Homo sapiens: one gene and its partners. The protein of the gene in region 1 interacts with the protein of each later gene in a biochemical or structural test. Each region holds a gene or a part of one and is shown in the gene's direction. Other genes may lie near its edges. The genes, in order: GRIP1, FRMPD1, ADGRA1, ERBIN, SH2D3C, SLCO1C1 and RCN2.

Region 1 (3,500 bases):
CTTTATTAAATATACAGAAGAAAATCTTATTTGCAGATTTTTAAAATAATTATTTGTTTCAGTATCGCATATATCCAAAAAAAAAATGCACCCAGATATTTATTACATGTAGCTCCTTAAAGGATGTTACTGCACCCTTCAAACCAAGGAAACTTTGACCTTGCCATTACAAAAAGCAATAAAAGCAGTGGTCTTGGATGTCTCAGTCAATGATGACCACCTAAATTCAGGCAAAGCTCGGGGTATTAGAAAGTGAGAAAGAGCTTCTTACTAATAATTCCAACTACATTATTAAATAGCTGAATATATGAAGAATACAATAAGTTACATTTGTACTAAGGAAATTTCTATTCATTTTCAAAACAGATGAATTAGGAGAAAAGGTAAAACTAAATATCACTAAAGATATGTTGTCATCATAATAATGGAAACCAATGGAGGAAAACAAATTGATTTACAAATTATTATGCTTTTTAATAAGTTGAAATTATATGTATAATACATGTTTTGTCTTACATCTTCTTCCTAATATTCTGCCCATTTGTGCACATTAGCACACACTTGTCATAGGAAACTGTTACTGTCTCTGTAGTATTTCCTTATGTGGATAATATATCTTTAGTTTGTTTCCCAGTTTTCAGTCTAATACATGATACTGAATTGTCTTTAAAGAATTTATTTTGTGCTTTAAATTGTTGCCTTCATGTATCTTCACTTTCAAGTCTTCTGATACATATTGTCTGAGAAATGTGTTTAGGATACACGTCCCACACATTTTCCCCAAGGCTTTCTTAAGCTAATAGAGGTGGCAGAGAGAAAAACAGTGGGAGAAATAGCGTTTGGATACCGTAATATCTAAAAACCAAAGCAAAGATGAGAGAAGGAGAGGCGAGAAGCAGCCCTTCTGTTTTGTAAGTGGGTCATTGCTGACCTTTGAGAGAACAGTTTTCACAGGGTATTGATGTCCAAACCAGATTATAAGGATTCTCTGCATTAAAGGCAACAAGGGCAGACCACTCTTTTAAGAAGTCTGAAGGTGAAAGTTAGGCTGTAGATGGGCAGCAGCCTGTGGGGGTGGAGGGCGGGGTCATGGGGGATAAGGAAGGCTATTATAGGATGGGAGAAATCTGAGCATTTTTTAAAAGGATAGAACCAGTAGGGAGGTAAAATTTCAAGATGCAAACTAGAAGAGGGATGAACTCTAGAACCAGGCAAGACAGTGTGAGTGTGAGACCACGAGACAGATGGCAGCCAGCTAGAGTGAGCAAGAGGGACACTCTTGTCACAGAGACAGGAAAGCATAGGAAGAAAGACTTTGAGGTGGACATTAAGGAAATTAATCAAACTTGACTTTCTTAGTAAATCAGAAGATGAGTCTAAAATCTCCTATTTTTATGAGCACCCAATTCAGGGGTTTCTAAATTTTTCTCTCCATTGGAATTACCTTGTAACCTTAAGAAAATAATGTTGCCTGGATCCAACCCCAGAGATTGTGATTTAATTGCCTGGAAGTGTGGCCTGTTCTTTGGCATTTTAACACATTCCCCAGGTGACTTTACTGTGTTAGCTGAGTTTGGGAGCCATGGACCTAACGTACTGGCAGCTTCATAGAGATGCTACTAGATATGTTTCAGCCAGAGACAAGCCCAGGAATTTTACTCAGCTGCTAGAAGGGAGAAGCTGAGCAGATATAAGGGCTATGAAACTGCTATAGCCTTCCTGTGACTTTGAGGGCAGAGCCTGTCTGAAAATGGCAGTGGATCCAAAAGAAAGAGACACCATATCTGACTGTCATCACTTCAGCCCCTGCTCAAGAACTACCTTAAGGGAGCTCTGAGCTCTCCCTTAGACTTCTTCAGTTAAGTTAGCCATTAAATGTCTTTAACACCTAAGCCCATTAGAGCCAGGTCTTTCTGTTATTTGCAATCAAAAGAGGCCTGATACAGGTTATAACGCATTTGTGTGTATACATTTTGGTGAGAGTTTTGAAGACATAGTTTAAAAATGACAGTTGACTCAACCATTTGCTGAGTCCACTCCTGAGTTGCTCTCATTCCACAGAACTGTGTGAACACCCCTGCAAATCTGAGCCTGCAGTCCTGTATGAAGTTATGAGCGCCACTGCTAACGTAGGATTTCCAGTGGATCATTTTGTTAAGTCTTCAAGTCTGCCCTCCTTGGCAGTCCACATCAGCATAGACTGGAAGGAATGTTCCATGGGGATGGAAATGAATATTGTAATTTTCATGTGATTTTTTGTCCTTACTATTTAGGGACCTAAGGGCTAACTGATCTCTCCCTTTCTTCTCCCCTTATGCGGAAGGTTATTATATGGAGAAAATAGTTGAAAGGCAGGGTTATAAAGTTTTCTGCTTTGGTTGTATGCGGTGCAATGTTCTGAGCATCTCAGCTCTTCTCATTGCTCCCTCTTCTCTTCTGTTACTTGTCTTCTTTCAATGCTAATGGACATAGCTACTCATGCAAAGGAGTTCACCCTCATTTGTATGGTGCAGAAAGTCTGTTGCCCTAGCCCACAATGAAGAGTAGACTTCATTGGTTAAAGTCATCTTCTATGGAGCCAATTGTTAAATGTTAAAGAATTTTTTGAACTAGCTTGTAAACACAATCATTTAAAATTATATAAATTTGCAATTAAATGATATTAAAAACGGAGGTAATGAATACTAACAATTCATCATTTTCTAATCATTACTACATTTTATGTTCTGTGCTCTTGAAGTCTACTCTATCTATGTGGGAGAGCTACTCTATAATGGTGTGCCACACATCTCTTAGCAACTCCACATTCAATGACATCAAGTTGGTAGACTGAAATTGGCCATAGTGGGAGTATTTACACCAGAGACATTGATGGATGCTATAAATCAAGGCATGCCCCGACAAAGCCACTTGTTAAACATTTACCAGCACACCACTGAATAGGTACTCCTGCTCTGTGTATTCATAAACCTGTATAGATGGCTTTCATTATGCTTTCTACATTTGATGATAATTCTTTGTTTATCTGTATACAACCATCAGACTATGAATTCCTTGAAAATTAGTATCCATGCTTTACTTACCATTATGTCACTGGCAAGTACAAAGTATTTGGTACAAAGAAAATGCCCAATAAGTATCTGTCGAATGGATAATGTTAATATTTATTTATTTATTTATTTATTTATTGAGACAGAGTCTCACTCTGTCACCCAGGCTGCAGTGCAGTGGCACGATCTCAGCTCACTGCAGCCTCCGCCTCCTGGGTTCAAGTGATTCTCTTGCCTCAGCCTCCCGAGTAGCTGGGATTACAGGCACCCATCACCACACCTGGCTAATTTGTTGTATTTTGGCCCGGCTGGTCTCAAACTCCTGACCCCAAGTGATCTGCCCACCTTGGCCTCCCAAAGTGCTGGGATTACAGGTGTGAGCCACCATGCCTGGCCAAATGATGTCAATTTTTAAAGATCTCCGGGCTTAACCAATCCCACACATTTGTT
Region 2 (3,500 bases), on another chromosome or scaffold:
TATTACTCCTTCACATTTCTGTTGTTCATAATGACAATAAACACCTCATCCCATCACTATTTGACCTTCCTCAGAAAGAACCACTGACTGTTAGAGGGAAAAATCATTTGCCACAGGTGAATGACAAATAACTTGTGACTCGCTTTGTGGTTTCTCTCTTTGAGAGATAGAAAATATTACTTTCCTGCTTTTAAGGAACATACATGTTTTAAAAGTTGATATAGAGGGAGTCCTTGCTATCTGAGATTTTATATTGGAAACCTTGCAGTTACAAAGCTTAAAGGGAAGCAAAATTCATCATAAAGAAACAAAGAAAAACATCACCAAAGACAAAATCTTGCTATAAAATTATCCGTCATCAAACATCTGAACCTGACAACTCCTTGTTTCTGCTCACCATCCATGTTTTTCCTCTCCTGTACCTCTGACTCCAGCAGTATGTCCTGCCTGGGATGCCCATCTGCCTGTTCTTCTGTCAGTCCGTCCATCCATCCATCCATCCATCCATCCATCCATCCATCCATTCATTCATTGATTCACTCAGCAGCAGTTATTGAATATCTTCTGTGTGCCAGGATCTGGGCTGTATAGGTATACCCTAGACATGTCTCAGAGTGCAGCTCAAATGCCACCTCTTCCAAGTACCAGATGCGTCCCTGATTCCCTATTCCCTGCCCTACAAAGGTGAAACTGCTCTCCCCCTTCTCTGTGTGTCCATAGCACTTCCTGGGCGCTTTCTAGATATTTAGCATTAGCTCATTAAGAATGCCTGGCAATACGACTTCTCTTTTAGAGGACAGTCCTAAGTTCTGCTAGTGGAGTTGGTGTCTTATTTGTCTCAAGAGGAGAATTGGTGTCTGCTCAGTTCTGCATCTTTCTCCATGATGCTTAGGGCTGACCCAGTTCGTGACCAACAACTAGAGTCTTCTCTTTCTCTTTTTTACATACTCCTTCTCTTCCAGGGCTAAAGTTGCTGCAGCTGATGGGCCCGCCAGGAACCCAACTCAGACCCTCATCCCTGTGCGACACACAGTAAAGATAGACAAAGACACCCTCCTCCAGGACTATGGATTTCACATTTCTGAGAGCCTTCCCCTTACAGTGGTGGCTGTCACAGCAGGTAGGGGATGACTGGGAAATGAGAAAGGAGTTTGGTTTCTTAAGGGGAAATAGCCCCAAATCTCCCCGATCTCTCTATCCTATAACAAAATGCAGAAAATCCTACCTGGGAAGTTAGAAAAGGCACACCTAATTCTGTCTTGGGCTTTGCACCTTACTTTGATGCTGGGAGGGAGGAAGCCTCAAGTGCACTTGCCGCTCCAAACCCCAGGCTCCCACTGGCCTTGGCTAGGGCGTTGCCCACCCTTGGCTCCCTGGCTGGTCTCAGGGGCAGTGAAAGTATTTGGCTAAGCTAGCCTTCCTCTTTGAACCCCACACGCTCCTAGCTGGGGATACTTTCTGGTCAGACAGTAATAGAAACCATTGATTTGTTTTCATTTGAACCTTGTGAAATACAGGCTGTACCAGGGTGGAGAGGAGCAGGTGGGGAAAGTCCAGTGCTTGTTTTCATAATTGAGGTGTGTTAATCTGGGATTCGTTAAAATGTATTGATTTCTATTTACTACACATACACACCAGAGTTTTTTAGAGATGAATGGAGTAGATTTACTGGCCAACTCTATTGATTTAGAAGGTTTCTGCTAGTTTTCTTTCTCAGGACAGTCTTCTAACATCCCTGGAAGTTGGTGATAGATGATAGGTACATTATCCATGGTTTATAAACAGGAAAATTAAGATCCACATGAGCCCAAGCCTGACTGAAGGCGGGGGAGTGAGCCAGTGCCCCTGGGAACTGGATCAGGGTGCCATTTAACTGTGCCGCTATTACACATAGAGTCTGGGTCCTCCCGGCATGAGCACCAATTACTTATTTTCTGTCCAACAGGAGGCTCTGCTCACGGCAAGCTTTTCCCTGGTGATCAGATCCTCCAAATGAACAATGAGCCTGCTGAAGACCTTTCCTGGGAACGAGCAGTCGATATTCTCAGGTACTAAATGGTCTTCCATCATCTACAGAATTGCACAGATTATCAAAGAACAAAGATGGGCAACAGGAATGGCATAACTGATCCCCTGATTTTAATAAGGCTAAGTCTCCTTTAAAGCAGCAAAAACAGCCTCGTTTTAGAGTTCCATCTATTAAAACGGCTTCTTGTTAGTGGCTGTTACAGTCCACTCTCTCTCACTTGCCTACAAAAGAGCTTGGGAGGCACAGAGTGCTGTATTTGTCAAAGCCCTGCTATGCCCAAGACACCGTGCTAAGCATGCAGGGAATGTAATGATCATAAATAACCCACAGGCCCTACCCTCTAAGGATTTATAGGCACGTTGTAACATATGCCAAAGATTGAACTAAATTGATGCCAAATCTGTTCTTCTTTATCCCTCTTGATATATCTTCTTAAATATAATTGCAGGTGCATCTTGGTTGGCATATATGTAGTTTCATTGATGTAGCACCTCCAAACCTTCTGTCTGGTGTCATTGTGACTTATGAAAATGCCTCGCTTTTTACCTAGACAATGATTTCCTGAGACCAGGGCTCAGTGGGTGCTCAGTTAAATGAGTGAATATGGTTAGCGCTGGGAATTGGCAACCCAGACTTTAAGACGGAGGAGTGCCATTGATAGGAGTGAAGAGGACAAGCAGACATTTTAAGGGCACATGAAGCTTTGGCTTTTAAATTTTTCACTCAACATTGTTCTAATGACTAGTATAAAGACAGACGAGAATCAGAGGTAGATGAAAGCTAACTTGAAGAGATATATATATATATATAAAATTCAGTTTGTGATTTTTCATGAATGGCTGATCTGGCTTTGGGGTGGTATTAATTGTTTTTTTTTCCCTTTTTTTTTGAGATGGGGACTTGCTGTGTTGCCTAGGCTGGTCTCAAACTCTTGGGCTCAAGTGGTCTTCCCATCCCAGCTACTCGGGTGGCTGAGGCAGGAGAATCGCTTGAACCCGGGAGGCAGAGGTTGCAATGGGCCACGATTGTACCACTGCACTCCAGCCTGGGTGACAGAACAAGACTCCATCTCAAAAAAAGAGAGAAAGAAAAAGAAAAGAAAAGCCAAGGAAATACACTGTAAATGCTGGAGAGTCCTCCAACTTGGGCAGAAGTTGTAGGCTGACAAAACAGAGAAGGGCCCAGAAATATTTCAGTTGTGTCTTTAATGCTGGGTAAAATTTGGTCCAAAAGATGGAGGTGAAGGGTGATTCAGGCAAAGAGGTAAACAGAAGCAACTGGGTGGGAAGTAGGGGCTGCTGAGCAGTTCAGTTTGCCTGCAGAAAAGTTCTAGGAAGTGAAGTCCAGATGATAGAAGGTCTTGAATGCCAGCACAGCATGTTTCAGTGTGATTCTCCCCCTGGAAGGGCGAGCAGTTGAAGGCTTCTGAGCAGGGATGCATGACTTGAGGTGTGCTGTGCATCTGTACCCT
Region 3 (3,500 bases), on another chromosome or scaffold:
GTGCAGCACCGTGGGACGCTGGTGGCTTCCCTGCAGCCTCTCCATCTGTCCAGCCTGAAGTCGGTGTCCAGGACTCAGAGCTCTGCCACGTACACCTTCTTGTGACCCCCAAATGCACATGGCACGGGTGAGGCTCAGCTCTGCCACCCTCCTCAGCGCCCCGGGCAGTGACACTGACAGCCCCACGGCTGCTTCCTGAAAAGAAAGAACCCGAGGCCGGGCTGTGGGGGCTGCCTCTGCCCTACTCCTCGACACGGTGCCCCATGGTTTCCAGGCCTCCCTGTCTCCACCAGGCTGCATGAGGCCTAGGCACTGGGATGGGACACGACCCCACACTCAGTGGCCAGGCCGGGGGAAAGGGTGGAGCCCCCCGGGGGCTGCTGTGTCTCCTGCCCCCAGCGGCGCACAGGGATCTCACCTGAAACTGCAAACGCAGCCCTCCGATCTTTCCAGCCCACCCCACAATATTCTCATCAATTACTGCAGAGCCTCCTCATCAGTGAAAATTGAGCTCTGGATCTGATAAATCATCATAATGGTGCGACGTTAGCTTTATGCGGCGAATCTCTGTATTCCTTAAACATTTATGTCCTTTCCAATTATAGCAGTATTTTACCTGTCATTTCAAAATGTCAGGTTATTACTCCAAAGGTAGCAGTGTGGCCCTCGTAATAAGCAAACGCAGGAAGTTTCCATAGCAATGAGGAACGGCGACCTGCAGGGCCACACGAATGCCGGCCCCGTGGGGGGCTCATCCCACCCACAGTAAGAGCATCCTGGTGAATGAGGAACGGCGACCTGCAGGGCCACACGAATGCCGTCCCCGTGGGGGGCTCATCCTACCCACAGTAAGAGCATCCTGGCGTGACCCCACTGAGGACTTCACCTCCTCTCCCTTGGTGGACACCTATCCAGGTCTGAGCTCAGGGGACGTTGGTCTGCAGCTCACAGTGTCCGTGCCTGGGCCACAGGGACCACAGCGGGTTGTGCATGCAGAGGGGCGTGAGTGCACAGGCCCATGGGTCCCCACAGACTCCCTGCTCCCGTCTCTGTGCAGAAGGGGAGGAAAGCTGAGCCGCTCAAGGGTCTCTGCAGCTCAGCGTCTCCCTGTGAGTTCTGGGCGGCTGTGGGGCGGCCGCTGCCTGCCCTGGGATACAGACGCTGCTGGCCGCCTGCCGTTCTCATTCTTGAAGTTGCAAGCCCGGGCCGAGGCTGCTGGGCTCTGGGGGGTGGGTGCCCGCCAAGGGCCTGGCTGACCGCTGCTCCCCCACAGGTGGGCATCGTGCTGCACTATTCTACACTGTCCACCATGCTGTGGATAGGAGTGACCGCCAGGAACATCTACAAGCAGGTGACCAAGAAGGCCCCTCTGTGCCTGGACACAGACCAGCCACCGTACCCCAGGCAGCCCCTGCTCAGGTACTGAGTGCACATGGGCGCGAGGCCCCGCCACCTGGGCCCTGGACGCTGCATGCACCTTCTGGGTCTTGGCAAACCTTCTCACCAGGCCACCAGGGGCCTGAGGATGATCCGGTCCATGGGGGAGGGTCAGTGTTCCCAGGGAGGGTGGAGAGCGGGCGACGGATCTGAGGGTAGGGTGGTGTGCTGGAGGGGAGGGGCGCCGGAGGGGAGGGGCGCCGGTCACTGGGGGTGGGGCAGAGGGGGCCCTGAGGGTGGAGGGTCCCGGGTGGAGTCTGAGGCAGGCGGTGCCCTGCCCTCCACATCTGCAGCTGGAGCCCGGCTGCTCTGGGGCTGGTCTGGGGCTGGCGTGTGTTGGGGGCTGGACAAGCCTCCTGTGCTACCGAGTTGCTGGCGTGAGACCCTCTATGCCCCGCAGGGCAGCCACACTGGGGAAACGGGCTCTGGTGGTTTTGGCTTCGGCTTCATGGTCTCCGTAACATCAGGCAGCTGACTGTCAGCGGGTGGAAAACCTCACACACTCAGGCACTCATTTCAAGGTGGCCCTGGCCTGGGCCCTTCAGGCCAGGAGGCAGGTGTGGTCCCCCAGTGTCTCTGCTGTGTGAGGCCCGGTTGCTGGGATGGGACACTCGCCCTCCCCCGCCGCCCCGGCGGCCTGCACCAGCTGTTGGTCCCCATCCATCCTCAGGCTGGGAATGCACCGTGGCCTTTGTGGGAACCATGGGCCTGCCTAGGGGGGCGGACACAGCCCATGATGGCACAGACCTCCCTCCCTCTCTCCCTCAGTCCAGAGCCAGGGGAACCCAGACGTCCACGTCTGGGAGGTGGCAGGAGCTCCTCTGCACCAGCAGGAAAAAGCCGGGTCAGGGAGCTGGGACAGCTGCTTTAGACGGGGGTCTGGCCGCGGCCGTGACCAGGCCGGAGCTCGCCAGGGAGCTCCAGCGCCTTTGGTGTTTCCTTTTCTGAACTGAGACTGAATCCCAGACACAGTTGGCGAAAGCCAGGCTCGGAGCGTGGCCTCGAGGCCTTGGGTGCCTACCTGGCCCATCCTCTGGGGTTCCCTGGGGCTCCCTGAATGCCTGCCCAGAGTAGCACCCTGTGTGAGGCACCCCCGCCAGAGGCTGCTCTGTGGCCAGCGGTCCCAGGGGGTCTTGGAGGACATTCATCCGGTTGCATGGGAGACGTGACCCGGTGCTGGCGCACGGACACCTGCTTCCTCGGAAGGGCTGTCCGGCACTGTCCCGTCCAAAACGGTCTGAAGAATTCATTTCAAGGCAGATACAGCCACGTCCTGTATTGTTCCAGCAAACAGCACTCATTTGCACCCGGAGCATTTTCTGACACTGTTTGATTTTCAGATCCACGCAGACACGTTGCCACTTAGCAACCAGGGCTGGGTGGTGCTTCTGCCGCTGATGGGGGCTGGGGAGGTAGGGTTTCATTATCTTGCCTCTCCTGCCAGGGAGGCCCCAGGTCCCCTGGGTGTATAAATCACTCTCAAAATGCGTTTCCTCATCTGTAATTGATGGAAGAGCTGCCTGGTTTTGAAGACCAGGCTGGCAGCCGTGGAACACCCCGGCGCTCTTCCATCCGGTGTCTGCCAATGCGCGCCGCAGAGCCGTGCGTCTGTCCAGGTGCTGGGGGGCCAGCGGGCCCGGGGCTCGGCACTGACCGGCGGACCCAGCGACGGCAAGGCCCTGCTTGCGGCCATGGTGCCGAGGCGACTGCTTCCTCCTGGGGCTGCCTGGAGACCCCCATCCTCCACCCCCTGCCCTCTGGGCCCCCTTCCTGTGTAAGAAAGGTCTTGACATTGTGGCAGGGGGTGTCCACACAGTGCCGTGTTCCAGCTGTGTTCCTTGGTTCCTGGCCTGCCTCGTCGCTCCGCCTCCCCAGCCGCCCCCCCGGTGTCTGGCCAGGGCTCAGCCTGTGCACCCCTGAGGCAGGTGCAGACTCAGGAGTGGTGGGCGGTGTTAGCTTGGGCTTTGCCGAGGGCCTGCCCTCTCCGTGGCTGGGCCTGGGGCTGCTGGGGGACTGTGCTGGGAGACTGGGCTGCACCTCCTCAGGGAGGCCAGCAGGCTGGA
Region 4 (3,236 bases), on another chromosome or scaffold:
AGTTAAAACAATTTAACCAAAAACTATGAATGTTTATGATATAATGAAATGATTTTTAACTTTCTTATTGCTTTTTCACACACCTATAAAAGTAATTTTATTACTCTCAAGAGAAATCACTAAAGTCAGAATTACTAGAGGTAAAAATAACTAGTTTGTTACAGTATTACTCAGAGAAGTCAGGGAGAAAACTTGTACCATGATTCAAATATTTGCATGGTGTGGAGGAAAAATTGCTCCTTGGTACTCTGTTATTTATACATACTGTTTTTAGTTAAATAATTTTTTTTGTTGTTAAAGGGTATATTTGTAACAAGGGTACAACCTGAAGGACCAGCATCAAAATTACTGCAGCCAGGTGATAAAATTATTCAGGTAATTAAAATAAATCTTTTTTTTTTTCATTTTATAACACTCTAATGTTTTCACAGTTTAAAATGTTTTCACTTTAACTTTGAAAATTGTGGGTGGGAGGCTGAGGCAGGAGAATGGCGTGAACCCGGGAGGCGGCACTTGCAGCGAGCCGAGATCGCGCCACTGTACTCCAGCCTGGGCGACAGAGCGAGACTCTGTCTCAAAAAAAAAAAAAAAAAAAGTTTGATACATCATAGGATTTTGTTTAAGCTCAGGAATGTTAATTTTTACTAATTTGAGGGGGATTAGAGTACCACTTCTTGGATGTGGGCTATTGTCCTTTCAGAAATGGAGAAGAAAAATTTTAAATCTGCGAAACTCATTTTTTCCTGTCCCCTCCTTTTCTTTGTTCATTCAGCTACTCATTTTACCTAAACACTTACAGTCTTAGAAGGAAGACAAACCTAGGACACAAGTATAGCTCTCATTTTCTACCCCTACTGTCACCGTTCTTAGCTGAGAACTAAAGAACTTAAAAAATAATCCTCAAACCAAAAAAAAAGGGAGAGAGAGACATTAATGTCTAATAGCTGAAAGTACAGATTCTGAAAGCCAGACTGCCTGAGTTTAAATTCTGGTCCCAACACTTTCTAAAAATAAAACTAATTAAAAAAAATTTTTTTTGAATAATTTTAAGCTTAGAAAAAAGCCACAAAAATACTACAACAAACACCAGTATTACATCAATTGGTCACCAGTCGTTCATAATTTGCTACATTGTCTTTATCATTTATTCTCCTCTTTCTTCTCTTTTTCTCCCTCCCTCCCTCTACACACACACACACACACACACACACACACACACATACACACACACACACAGTCACACTCACTCATACAGTTATACACATTTATTTTTCTGAACCATTTGGGTTTCAATTTGTGACTGAGCAAGTTACTTTGCCTCTCCATGCCTGGGCTTTCTCTTCTCTAAAATAAGATAGTGAAAGAATCTTTTTTGAGCATTATGAGAATCAAAGGATCTAATTCATATTACACCCTTAGAATTGTGTGTTTGGTACACAGTAGAACCTCAGTAAATATTAAGCTTAATTGTAAGAAATATGGTGGTCTTGATGTGATGGCTCCAAGACAATGGGAAGAGTAGCCCTTGCCCCCTGCTACGCTACAGTTTGGTCACCTCAGATACACATTAGCATTATACGACACCATGTCTGACATTATTTCTTAAGTAAGTGATTTCTAACATTGGGCTGCTACATAAGAATTGGCTGAGAAGTTGGACAAAATACACATTTTTAGACCCCATCTTCAGAGACTTTATTCCTTGGTTTGGGTAGGGCCTGTGAATCTGTATGTTATTTTAAGTTGCCAAAGTGATTCTTATTTTCTTCCAAGTTTGTGAACTACTTGGCAGAAATGCAAATAAATAACTATAAAATGTTTTTCCTAAAAGCATTTTTCCTCTTCTAGGCTAATGGCTACAGTTTTATAAATATTGAACATGGACAAGCAGTGTCCTTGCTAAAAACTTTCCAGAATACAGTTGAACTCATCATTGTACGAGAAGTTTCCTCATAAGCACTGTGGACAAAAAAAGCGGGGAAGACAGCAAGATTTATTGGAAGATACTTACAGGGGAAATTAATATTTTGACTATTTTTATATATAAAGAAGAACTCAAAAAATTATGTTCAAATTTGTACATTAATGAAATAATGGAACTTGTGGTTAGAGGGAAAGAACCACTGTACAGAATATAAAGGAGACTGTTGAATTCATACCATATAAAACTTGTTAGGTTTTTAAACATAGCAATCAAGGCTACAAAAACAAACCTGTGTTGTTTTTGTATAGATTGTAGGTTTATTTTTGGATTTCATATACATGACTGAACTGTGTGCAAGGCAATAGTTAGCCTTGATTTTAGCCCAGAGACAGATGGCAGAGCTATCTCTCTCATAGCTTTTATGCCCTTATTTTTATTCAACTGGTATTAATGTTTTTCTCCTGAAACTACTTTTTTTGATGTGGGCAAGAGATTTGAAGTGTTGGCTTTTGCTATGTGCATATTGAATTGAAGAGTGAGTAGGTGAAGGTGGTGCTGGTGGGTTCACTTTCCAAGGCCAGACTAAAACAGTTATTTTCTATAAAAATCTGGAAGCAAAGAATGGGGATGGGGAGAGCTACGTGGTAGTATGTTTTTATTAGGAGAATAATGCAATAAAATATGTAATGTCTTTTTTATAAAGCAAAAAAGACAATAATTGCATTTATGAGCTCGGCAGGATCTGTTCTTGTCATAGCCATTGACTATACATTTGCTACTGGTGATTCAGTTTTTAATTTTTTAGTCACAGGAAATTTTTAACTCTACTGTAGATGCATGTCCATGCATTTTCTGTGTTATGGAAATCCACTGATTTTTTTTTTTTTTTCAAATGGTGGTACTTGCAATCTGTTTTATAATTAGTGCTCCATTTAAATCTAATTTATAATTTTTATTTTAAGCAGCAAATGAAACAAAAATGGCCAGTTTTAAGATTGTGTTGCCTGTAACACAAAATGTTACGAAGGTTTAGGAAAGCCTCTTTGATTTTTGTTTGGCCTTGCATTGCCTTGGTAAAGTAAAAGGAAACAGTACACTTGGAGCTAGGAAACCAAAGCAAGCTTTGTGAAACTGGCACAGTGATAGAGAATTGCTGTGGAGAGTTATAGAGCAAAGGGATGGGTCCTTGAGGCCTGCCAGTGTGTAAAGGTGTTCAAATAAAGGGCTGTTTCTACAGGTAACATTAAATGTGAACTCAACACTTCCAGAGTCTTTAAAGGGTTTCTATGTGTATCAGTGTAATAGTGTTTTA
Region 5 (3,500 bases), on another chromosome or scaffold:
CTCGGAGGCTGAAGCAGGAGAATGTCTTGAACTCGGGAGGCAGGTTCAGCAGTTGCAGTGAGCTGAAATCACGCCACTGCACTGCAGTCTGGGCGACAGAGTGAGACTCCATCTCCGAAAAAAAAAACAAAAAAGAAAAGAAAAAAGACAAAAAAAGAAAAAAAGAAACCAGGCGTTCTAGCCACCAGGGTTCCTAGCTCTGCTCCTGACTCGCTGTGCCCCCTCCCTCATCTGGGCTTCAGTTTTTTTGGTACCTGTCAGTCGGGAGGTTGGATTTGATAATCTCCAAGCCTTCTCTGCCTCTGAAGTTCAAGGTGCAGAGGTGGGGGGTCCCAGAGGCAGGCTGAGGCCCCTGACCTCCGGGCTCCCTGCCCATGATGGTGTCTGCTCCACAGTACGTCGCTGCCCCGCCCTCGGGACTCCATCCGCAGCTGTGCCCTCAGCATGGACCAGATCCCAGACCTGCACTCACCCATGTCGCCCATCTCCGAGAGCCCTAGCTCCCCTGCCTACAGCACTGGTATGGCCAGCAGAGGGGGTGGAGCAGGTGGAGGGAATCTGTTGTTGAAGACTTCTGTCACCTATGTGTGGTTATGTGTGTTTCCGCCTCTTTTATGAGGCGCGACCTTTACCAAGAGAAAGAACTGACACTGGAATCCTGCTAACAGAACTGTTGATATCAACATATAAGATGTATCCATGGTTTGTTTATTTAGCAACTATTTATTTGTTTTTGTGACAGTTTTGCTCTTGTGGGCTGGAGTGCAGTGGTGGGATCTTGGCTCACTGCAACCTCCGCCTCCTGGGTTCAAGCGATTCTCTTGCTTCAGCCTCCCAAGTAGCTGGGATTACAGACCCCTGCCACCACGCCTGGCTAATTTTTGTATTTTTAGTAGAGACGGTGTTTCGTCATGTTGGCCAGAGTGGTCTCGAACTCCTGACCTCAGGTGATCCACCTGCCTTGGCCTCCCACAGTGCTGGGATTACAGGCGTGTGCCACCATGCCTAGCTAATTTTTGTATTTTTAGTAGAGATGGGGTTTCACCATGTTGGCCAGGGTGGTCTCGAACTCCTGACCTCAGGTGATCCACCCGCCTCAGCCTCCCAAAGTGCTGGGATTACAGGCATGAGCCACTGCACCTGGCCTCTATTTTTCTTAATAGACTTTATTTTTTAGAGCAGTTTTAGGTTTGCAGCAAAATTAAGTGGAAAGTACGGAACACTGTGCTTTCTTATAAATACGAAGAAAGTTTCTCTGTTAGAAACATTCCAATAGATCATTTCTGGAAAAAAAATAAAAAGAATGTTTTCAACAGGCCGTATTGTCCACGTGGCAGGCCAAGTGTCACGAGAGGGGGCTGACTCAGGAGGAACTTTCGCCTAGGGTGGCATTCCATTGAAGTGTTGCTGTCTGTATCGGTTGTCACAAATCCTTCCCTAAACACAGAGCCACCAACTTTGTCATAACTACAAACTTGATTTCAAAGCAATACCCTGAGTATAAAACCTAAAATTCCTTGCCAGAATGACTTATTGGACAGTTTCTAAGCAATCTGGTATAGTAAAGCAGCCCAGATGTCAAGACTTAAATCTCAGCTGTACCACTTGCTGGCTGGGTGACCTTGGGCAGGTTAGTGCACCTCTCTGAGCTTCACTTTTCTCATCTGTAGAATGAGGATTATAAAAGTACTTACTTCATAGGACATTGAAAGGATTAAATAGACTGAGGTACAAAGAAGGGTCTTGCAGGCACTAAGAGCTTAGTAAATATCGCCTTTGAGGTTTGATGATGGTTTTACTGTCATTATGTCTCCAGCATGTTGCCAGCTCCTAGCACACAAGGTTTAGCAACAAATCATTATTGCTAATTCAGGCCGGGCATGGTGGGGCACATCTGTAATCCCAGCTACTCAGGAGGCTGAGGCACAAGAATTGCTTGAACCTGGGAGGCGGGGGTTGCAGTGAGCTGAGATCATGCCATTGCACTCCAGCCTAGGCAACAGAGCGAGACTCTGACTCAAAAAAAAGTTAGCCAGGCGTTGTGGCACATGACTGTAATCCCAGCTACTCGGGAGGCTGAGGCTCAAGAATTGAAGAATTGCTTGAACCCAGGAGGTGGAGGTTGCAGTGAGCCTAGATGGCACCACTGCACTCCAGCCTGGGCCACAGAGCGAGACAGTGACTCAAAAAAAAAAAAAAAAAAAAAAAAAAGGAAATCATTATTGCTAATTCGTCGAGAAACAATCACATGTGGCACAAGAAACTCCAGCAGGTACTCAGCTTCCCCGGATCACTGAAGCTCCTCCAAGCAGTGGGTCCCCAAGGCTGCAGCAGCCTCAGGGTGGGGCCATGCAAACTCCTGGGTCCTGGTGATTTCAGAGCATCACCTGGGCTGGTCAGCTTGCCAGAGTCAATCGGCCCTGGTCTCTGGTGATGCAGGGAGGTGGGGACATCACCTCTGTACTCCCTACAAGGAGTGAGGGAGCCTGTTCTTTGGGAAGGGGTGCGGGAATCTCACTTTGGTGGGGAGCTGCTATAACGGGGCCTCTCTCTCTACCTTTCTGCAGTAACCCGTGTCCATGCCGCCCCTGCAGCCCCTTCTGCCACAGCATTGCCTGCCTCCCCTGTCGCCCGCCGTTCCAGTGAGCCCCAGCTGTGTCCCGGAAGTGCCCCAAAGACCCATGGGGAGTCAGACAAGGGCCCCCACACCAGCCCCTCCCACACCCTTGGCAAGGCCTCCCCGTCACCATCACTCAGCAGCTACAGTGACCCGGACTCTGGCCACTACTGCCAGCTCCAGCCTCCCGTGCGTGGCAGCCGAGAGTGGGCAGCGACTGAGACCTCCAGCCAGCAGGCCAGGAGCTATGGGGAGAGGCTAAAGGAACTGTCAGAAAATGGGGCCCCTGAAGGGGACTGGGGCAAGACCTTCACAGTCCCCATCGTGGAAGTCACTTCTTCCTTCAACCCGGCCACCTTCCAGTCACTACTGATCCCCAGGGATAACCGGCCACTGGAGGTGGGCCTTCTGCGCAAGGTCAAGGAGCTGCTGGCAGAAGTGGATGCCCGGACGCTGGCCCGGCATGTCACCAAGGTGGACTGCCTGGTAGGTGCTGGCTGTGCACTGGGGTGGAGGGAGCATCTCTGTTCTGTGGGGCAGGGCAGTGAGAAGCTGGCTCCCAGATTCCCCAAGTACAGCAGGTGGGCCTGGATTCTAGCTCCATGGCTGTCCTTTGCCTGCTCTGTGACTCTGGGCTGGTCATTTAGCCTCACTGGGCCTCCAGTTTCTCCTTTTAAAAAGGCCGGGGGTGGTAGCTCACACCTGAATCCCAGCACTTTGGGAGGCCGAGGCGGGCGGATCACCTGAGGTCAGGAGTTCAAGACCAGCCTGGGCAACATGGCGAAACCCCGTCTCTACTAAAAATACAAAAATTAGCTAGGCGTCGTGGTGGGCGCCTGTAATCCCAGCTACTTGGAAGGCTGAGGCAGGAGAATCACTTGAA
Region 6 (3,500 bases), about 46 Mb from region 1:
ACTAGAGAACCAACCTGATTAATTTAGAAAAACAACATGATAGCAGAAATACAAACCTTGAATAATGCCTCTGTCTATTCTTAATGAAATGATGTACATGTGGTTTAAACTAATCCAACTTCAATTTTCCCATCTTAAAAACAGAAGTAATAACTACCTTTTAAACTTTTGTAAGGTTTAAGCAAGCTAACATACATGAAAGTGAATGCTACTTGCCTGACACAAGCTAAATGTGCCATTCATGGAAACAATTGTTTTCTTCCTCCTTTGAACATCTGAGGAACTGGAGTTACCTCTTTGCAATCCTCCATAGTTGCTGTTGTGCTTGAATCATGTAAAGTTTCAGGAAACAACGCCTGTCCTTCAACCCAGTGTTCCCCATAAAAGTTCTCTTTAGCTGAGTGTCTTGCAATTGGTCAGGAGAATATTTAGTGATGCCTTCAGGCCTCTCATCTTGTATGGGGTGGGTGATTACATTGCTTGGTTTCCAGAGTCTCTCTCAATACAAGGTTGAATCTTGTAGGAACTATATTGCCCTTGCCCATTGAGAGTCTTTCCCATCACTCTACCACTTCACATGAATTTCCAGAGGTAACTTTCTTCATCATTTCACCTATATATGCATTATTTGTTTTCTAAAAAAATTATCGAGTCTCCATCATGTGCCAGGAAGGCCTTCCCAACTGTATCTGCCTGGCCACCTGAAACTCTGCCTGTGGCTCAAAAGCAAACACTCCTGACACTATATTCTGTTTCCTGCCTATTCTGTGGCTTCTTGCTTACAGCCTGCTGTCCATCTCCCGTCCTACTCTTGCTTCCCTGCTTATCTGTCTTGTCTCTATGTTCCAACTTCCATCACCTTTATTAACCTGGTTTCATCTGCTGCTAAATGAGCGCCTGTTATAGTTTTGGCCATCTACAATGTTCAGGAAGATTGGTGAATGCAAAGTTCATAAATTACGGCTTCTGGGAGTTATCACAGCCACATTGTTAGACTCAGCTGAGTGTAGTGCTGCCTTAGTGAAAGTCAGTGATATGGATTAAGAATGTTAGTTGTAACAATGAAATGGAAGATGATTCTGGAGAGAGCAGAAGCCCAGTGCCATCTTTAACTGTCCCAGAAATCCTCACGGTAGAGGGACAGTTGTAGAGGACTTTATAGTTTGTGATTTCCAAAACACCTTAACTTTCATGATCTCATTATATCCTCAAAACACCTTTATGAGTTTAGTTTTGTTATCCTTGTTTAAAAGAAACTGCATGGATCTGGGGTTTGAACACAGGCGTGACTCAAAGTAGAACATTCTTTCTGCATCATAATTTCTAAGCCAAAAGTAAACACAAAGCAGACAACAAAAGCAAACTTTGAGATTCCCATTAAAAGTATTCCTACATAATCAAAGATTAAATATTTTAAACAAATAAAAGGTAACATTTTCATTGAGTGAGTACTAGCCTCTTCAAAGGAGTCACCTTGAAAGACTATAATTGTATTGCAGTAATGCTACTGTTGTTTAAAATATTCTAAGACTCTTATTTTGAATTTCTTTGTATATTTTTGAGAATATTCTTAACAAGGGCAAAGATTTAACCTTTAAGGAAAAGCTCTCATCTTTCAGCATAACTATCTTGAAAGGAAATCTCATTTGGGCATAAACATTCTGGCATATTTGTTAAAACTCGTCTTATAATTAAAATTCTAAATTACAAATCTACTGTCAGCACATCCTTCAGAAAAGATGTATCCCAATGATTCCTGCCCCTGATGATAAATTAAACTTTCAATACTATAAAGTATTTTTCTTTATAAAATATAAAATGTTTCCCATGGGTTTTTCCATGTTGCTTTATTCCAAACGCTGTCTTGACCTGAATATTCAATAGGAAAACTGAAGACAAGTCTTAGATATGATAATGGAAGAAATCTCTCTTCTGCAATAACAAGGACAACTCTGATGTGGACATAAGAATTTACAATCAAGAAACCTGGCAGGGTTCAGTTTCCAGGTTTGTCACTAGCAAGCAGTGTGAATTTGAGCATGTTACCCACCCACGTAGGGGCTGACTTCCTTGATCTGCCAAGTAAGAGGTTGGCATAGATTACTCCAATGTTCCCTCCAGCTCCAACCTTCTATAATCTCAGCCCTACAGTTTCCAGAGTTAAATGATTCTAGACTTTAAAAGGCAGTTTTATACTTTCAGATAATACAAACAGTCTCAGTTAACAATTAAAATTTTATGGAAGAGAATAGGATTAAACATTCCTATAGCACATCTCAGAAGGCCTAGTTCAGTACCCTTTCACACTATTTGGAGACATCTCAGAGGTCTTTGGTTTGTACTTTTGAGGTGACAAAATTCATCATACCAGTTCTACTAGATGAAGTATTACACTGATTAAGAAATTATGGTTGCCATCATTAATGACAATACTTCTCAGAGGCAGAGGCTCAAGTGATTAATTTATTTCTCCAAAATAAAGTACCATTTTTTAATTGACTAACTTACTGGAAATTTTGTTTCTTAGCTTGCTGTGTGACAGGAATTATTCCTGGTTCTGGACATATGGGAGTGAATACAAAAATAGTTCCTGCCTCTCTTGATTGTACAGTTCAGTGTATTTTTTGTTTGTTTAAGCTCCTCAGCTATCTTTATAAAAAATGGGAGGAAAGATATGAGGAATAAGCAAATAAATAAATTTGAAAATAAGGAGCAGAAAAAATGAAGTATGGAGGGCCAATGAATGGCACATATGGTGCAGATAGAAATGACATACCATTGCAAAAGTTCCTTTTGAGAAGAGTAGAGGAATATGAATAGCAAAAAAAAGGATAAAAGCAGAAGGATTAGGCCATTCAGGTGACAGAAAAAAAAGTGAGGGAGAGAGAATACTGGGAGAGATGAAGGATAAATATAAAAGCGAATGGCAGAGAACAAAAAAAAATGAAGGAGAAAAGAAAGAATGCAATCACAATTTTGTGAAATAACTCAAAAAAACCAATTTTGGGGGGGGGTGCAAATTTTGTCTCATTAATGTTTGTAACCATCTCCTATTCTCCCGGAGCTAGCACTTAGTAGGCTTCCAGTAAAATTTTATCAACAAATAAATGGGTAAGTCATTGAACTTACTTGTGAATTTGAGTAAGAAAGGATGCTATAAGATATGAAAGAGCACTATACACTGGGAGGATACACAGGAGAAAGGTTGAATGAACTGGGAATGCACTTGTTGGTTACACACATGCAAGAGGACATGTAACTCCTGCAAACACTGAAAGAGAATTAACTGATAACTGATTGGCTATTTTTCCTTTTACTGGACCATTAGTAATATCCATTCCACTCATACTTAGACAACAATTCTGAATGAAATTTGCACACACACAACACACACACACACCCCACCTGTGATGCATTGAAGTAGTGTCATAAATTGCTCTAAAAGTTTACTTTTCTACCTTGTTAGCTATTTTTATACACCTTTGCACAGAAGTATATTA
Region 7 (3,072 bases), on another chromosome or scaffold:
TAATTTGAGAGTACAGTGAATAGAATAATAGTTTGTATTTACCTACAGGGACTCAAAACAGGTTATAATAATTTTTCATTGCCTTGATATATCCTGGATTGGATTTGAGTGGAGAGAGACAGAACCCAGCAGAAATGAAGAAAGGAGATAATGGGAAAAGCAGTAGACGGACCTGGTTACAACGTGTAACATTTTTAGATACTTAAACAATAATGAGTACTTGTACACCTGGATGATTTTGACAAGTCAAATCACATTAAATTGTGAACATCTTGCTGAAAATACTTATTACACTTGACACTTTTTTGTTTTATTTTGAAGGCGCTTCATCTAATTGATGAAATGGATTTGAATGGTGACAAAAAGCTCTCTGAAGAAGAGATTCTGGAAAACCCGGACTTGTTTCTCACCAGTGAAGCCACAGATTATGGCAGACAGCTCCATGATGACTATTTCTATCATGATGAGCTTTAATCTCTGAGCCTGTCTCAGTAGAGTACTGGCTCCTTTTATAATTTGTTACCAGCTTTACTTTTGTGATAAAATATTGATGTTGTATTTTACACTCTTAAGTCTTAACCACAGTCAGAATTATCTTAATGTAGATTATAATTTTGGTCTTTTAGGAAAAAAAAACAAAAATCTGATATTTATTTCAAAATGTATTGAAGCAACAAAATATTAATATTGTGCCATATGACAACAAAGTCTTTCCTAAATACTCCATCTGTTTAGTACTGTATTGTGGAATATTTGAGTTCTATTTCCATACTTGAAAACATGGAGGATTTTAGAGATGCCTGAACAATATTATTTAAGTAGTATGTGACCGAGCTATAAATTTTTGTTTTTGTTCTAAGTAGATTTAATTTGGGAACTGACAGGACAATGTTTTTAGGTTTAGCATTTTGTTTAAAAACCTTTAAAGAAACCTTTAGAAGGACTTAGACCTCACATATTAATGTTGAGAAGTTCTGCTTAATTTTAAAATGGTTTCTATAAAGGGTTTTATTGTATGAAATAGAACTTTATATTTTTGCATATGTATAGATAGTAATTATATTTAATGTATAACTATAGCATTATGGTGAGTGGAATTTGACATTGTCCAAACCTTTTTCATTTTTGAGTGATTAAAAATGAAATGTCCTTTGTATATGTTTGTTTGCTTTTCTTTAACTTTCAGATAAATATTGAATTTAGCATAGGTTTTGTGGTATTGTACATTATCTTGCCTCATCCATTCCTTTATGTGGATAGTTCCCAAAACTGTCAAATTATTCTTGCTGCATTTTCTTATTTTTTTTTTAAATAAGAGAATCATGTTATAATATAATTGAATGTGCACCTGACACATTTTAATAATTGGTGTTGTAGCAAATGTGGTTTTGCTCTTTGGGGCTATAAATAATCTTGAGTAACGCAGGTTGGAATTACCAATAGAGCTGGTCAGTTATCAACAGTAGAGCTCAGTATCAATTTTACTGAAATTAAAATCATACTTGATAAGCATGATAATCAATTTTAACCTAATTCAGCAGGTCAACTTATTTAACTTTGGTGGAGGTGGGATAGGGAAAAGTGAAGGGAGGAATTAATTTTTTTCTAGTTCTGATGTACAGAGATTGTTTTTCATTCTTTTTTTTTTTTTTTTTTTTGTGACAGAGTCTTGCTCTGTGGCCCAGGCTGGAGTGCAGGGGCACTATCTCGGCTCACTGCAAGCTCTGCCTCCTGGGTTCACGCCATTCTCCTGCCTCAGCCTCCCGAGTAGCTGGGACTACAGGCGCCTGCCACCACACCCGGCTAATTTTTTTGTATTTTTAGTAGAGACCGGGTTTCACCGTGTTAGCCAGGATGGTTTCGATCTCCTGACCTCATGATCAGCCCACCTCGGCCTCCCAAGGTGCTGGAATTACAGGCGTGAGCCAACGCGCACGGCCTCTAGTTTTTCATTCTTTAAATCACTTTTATTTGTGGGTGAAGAGGTCAGCTATGCATTCTCTTAATCACTTTCCAGCCTAAAGTTGTCTCATATACAGCACACTGGGGGCTCAACAAGTACCTATGACTATTTGAGAAGACATGAAACTCTTCTCTGATAGAATCGACTGCACCTATATACCTCTCTACTGCCGCATCTTTGCTGATGTGAGGTGTGCTTGCAAATTGTAAGCTTCCACACCTTAATGACTGCTTGCTTGGGTATCTACATGGTTTTCATTTTAACCTACACTATATGTCTGGCTATAGCAGTTTTAGAATTACAGATTTACCACTATCACTCATCTGTCATTTGTCAGACTCACTGAAGCTGGCATATTTGAAATCACCAGTTTGACTAGTTAACTATTTGTTTTTCTCTCTAGCTTCTCCAAAATCTATGCCAGAATAGATCATCAGATATGGATTATATTTCAATCCTTTGCAGAAATGCAATGTCTGTACTACTTTCCTTCCTAGCATAAAGAAAACTACACTTCCCAGCCCTCTTGTAGGTAGGCGATGGCTAGTTCTGACCAGTTAAACATGGGTGGAAGTAGTGTGTGTCACTATCAGACTATCTCATGACAAACCCTTTTCCTCTGCCACAGCACTGTGCAGGAGGCCTCAGCTGAAATGGTGCAGCCACAAGATGAAAGTGGCTTTGATCTTGAGTCTGTGTAGGTCAGCTGGATCCACAGTGGGCTTTGTATGATCAAAAAATAAGCTTTTAATTATGTTAAGCCACTGAGATTTGGTTGTGCTTTTTTGTTTTTAACCACAGCAGAGCCCATCCTGCTGTGACTGAGTGAAGATTTCACATTTAACAATAGGCTTTTAATAAGCATGCAGAGAAAAAGAATCATCTGCTTGAACAGAGATGCTATATCTACTGCTGAGTCAAAATAGAAAATTTTAAGGCTTTTTTTAGATTTGAATTTTAAATAAGACTTTTAAAATAAAGCTTTTATTTTGGTTTTAATATAATTAGGATAATTTGAATTTATCCTTGAGCATGAGAGTAAAAATAGTTTGAGACTTTCTGAATCATTGGCTGATTCTGCCTGAAGGACTTAATGACTTCCATTATTT

Evidence for each region.
Region 2: the proteins of GRIP1 (region 1) and FRMPD1 interact in a test that uses a peptide from one of them, tested with the Homo sapiens proteins (one large-scale study listed by IntAct).
Region 3: the proteins of GRIP1 (region 1) and ADGRA1 interact in a test that uses a peptide from one of them, tested with the Homo sapiens proteins (one large-scale study listed by IntAct).
Region 4: the proteins of GRIP1 (region 1) and ERBIN interact in a test that uses a peptide from one of them, tested with the Homo sapiens proteins (one large-scale study listed by IntAct).
Region 5: the proteins of GRIP1 (region 1) and SH2D3C interact in a test that uses a peptide from one of them, tested with the Homo sapiens proteins (one large-scale study listed by IntAct).
Region 6: the proteins of GRIP1 (region 1) and SLCO1C1 interact in a test that uses a peptide from one of them, tested with the Homo sapiens proteins (one large-scale study listed by IntAct).
Region 7: the proteins of GRIP1 (region 1) and RCN2 interact in a test that uses a peptide from one of them, tested with the Homo sapiens proteins (one large-scale study listed by IntAct).

What each region holds. Positions count from the first base shown.
Region 1 is NC_000012.12:66,669,077-66,672,576, reverse strand, and holds part of GRIP1 (glutamate receptor-interacting protein 1), read left to right. Parts: intron 1-3,500. UniProt on the Homo sapiens protein: May play a role as a localized scaffold for the assembly of a multiprotein signaling complex and as mediator of the trafficking of its binding partners at specific subcellular location in neurons.
Region 2 is NC_000009.12:37,706,454-37,709,953, forward strand, and holds part of FRMPD1 (FERM and PDZ domain-containing protein 1), read left to right. Parts: intron 1-962; coding exon 963-1,120; intron 1,121-1,945; coding exon 1,946-2,048; intron 2,049-3,500. UniProt on the Homo sapiens protein: Stabilizes membrane-bound GPSM1, and thereby promotes its interaction with GNAI1.
Region 3 is NC_000010.11:133,101,424-133,104,923, forward strand, and holds part of ADGRA1 (adhesion G protein-coupled receptor A1), read left to right. Parts: intron 1-822; exon of another isoform or gene 823-915; intron 916-1,273; coding exon 1,274-1,419; intron 1,420-3,500.
Region 4 is NC_000005.10:66,076,575-66,079,810, forward strand, and holds part of ERBIN (erbin), read left to right. Parts: intron 1-300; coding exon 301-375; intron 376-1,848; coding exon 1,849-1,956; 3' UTR 1,957-3,236. UniProt on the Homo sapiens protein: Acts as an adapter for the receptor ERBB2, in epithelia. By binding the unphosphorylated 'Tyr-1248' of receptor ERBB2, it may contribute to stabilize this unphosphorylated state.
Region 5 is NC_000009.12:127,744,167-127,747,666, reverse strand, and holds part of SH2D3C (SH2 domain-containing protein 3C), read left to right. Parts: intron 1-395; coding exon 396-520; intron 521-2,567; coding exon 2,568-3,103; intron 3,104-3,500. UniProt on the Homo sapiens protein: Acts as an adapter protein that mediates cell signaling pathways involved in cellular functions such as cell adhesion and migration, tissue organization, and the regulation of the immune response.
Region 6 is NC_000012.12:20,733,332-20,736,831, forward strand, and holds part of SLCO1C1 (solute carrier organic anion transporter family member 1C1), read left to right. Parts: intron 1-3,500. UniProt on the Homo sapiens protein: Mediates the Na(+)-independent high affinity transport of organic anions such as the thyroid hormones L-thyroxine (T4), L-thyroxine sulfate (T4S), and 3,3',5'-triiodo-L-thyronine (reverse T3, rT3) at the plasma membrane.
Region 7 is NC_000015.10:76,948,749-76,951,820, forward strand, and holds part of RCN2 (reticulocalbin-2 isoform a precursor), read left to right. Parts: intron 1-321; coding exon 322-474; 3' UTR 475-3,072.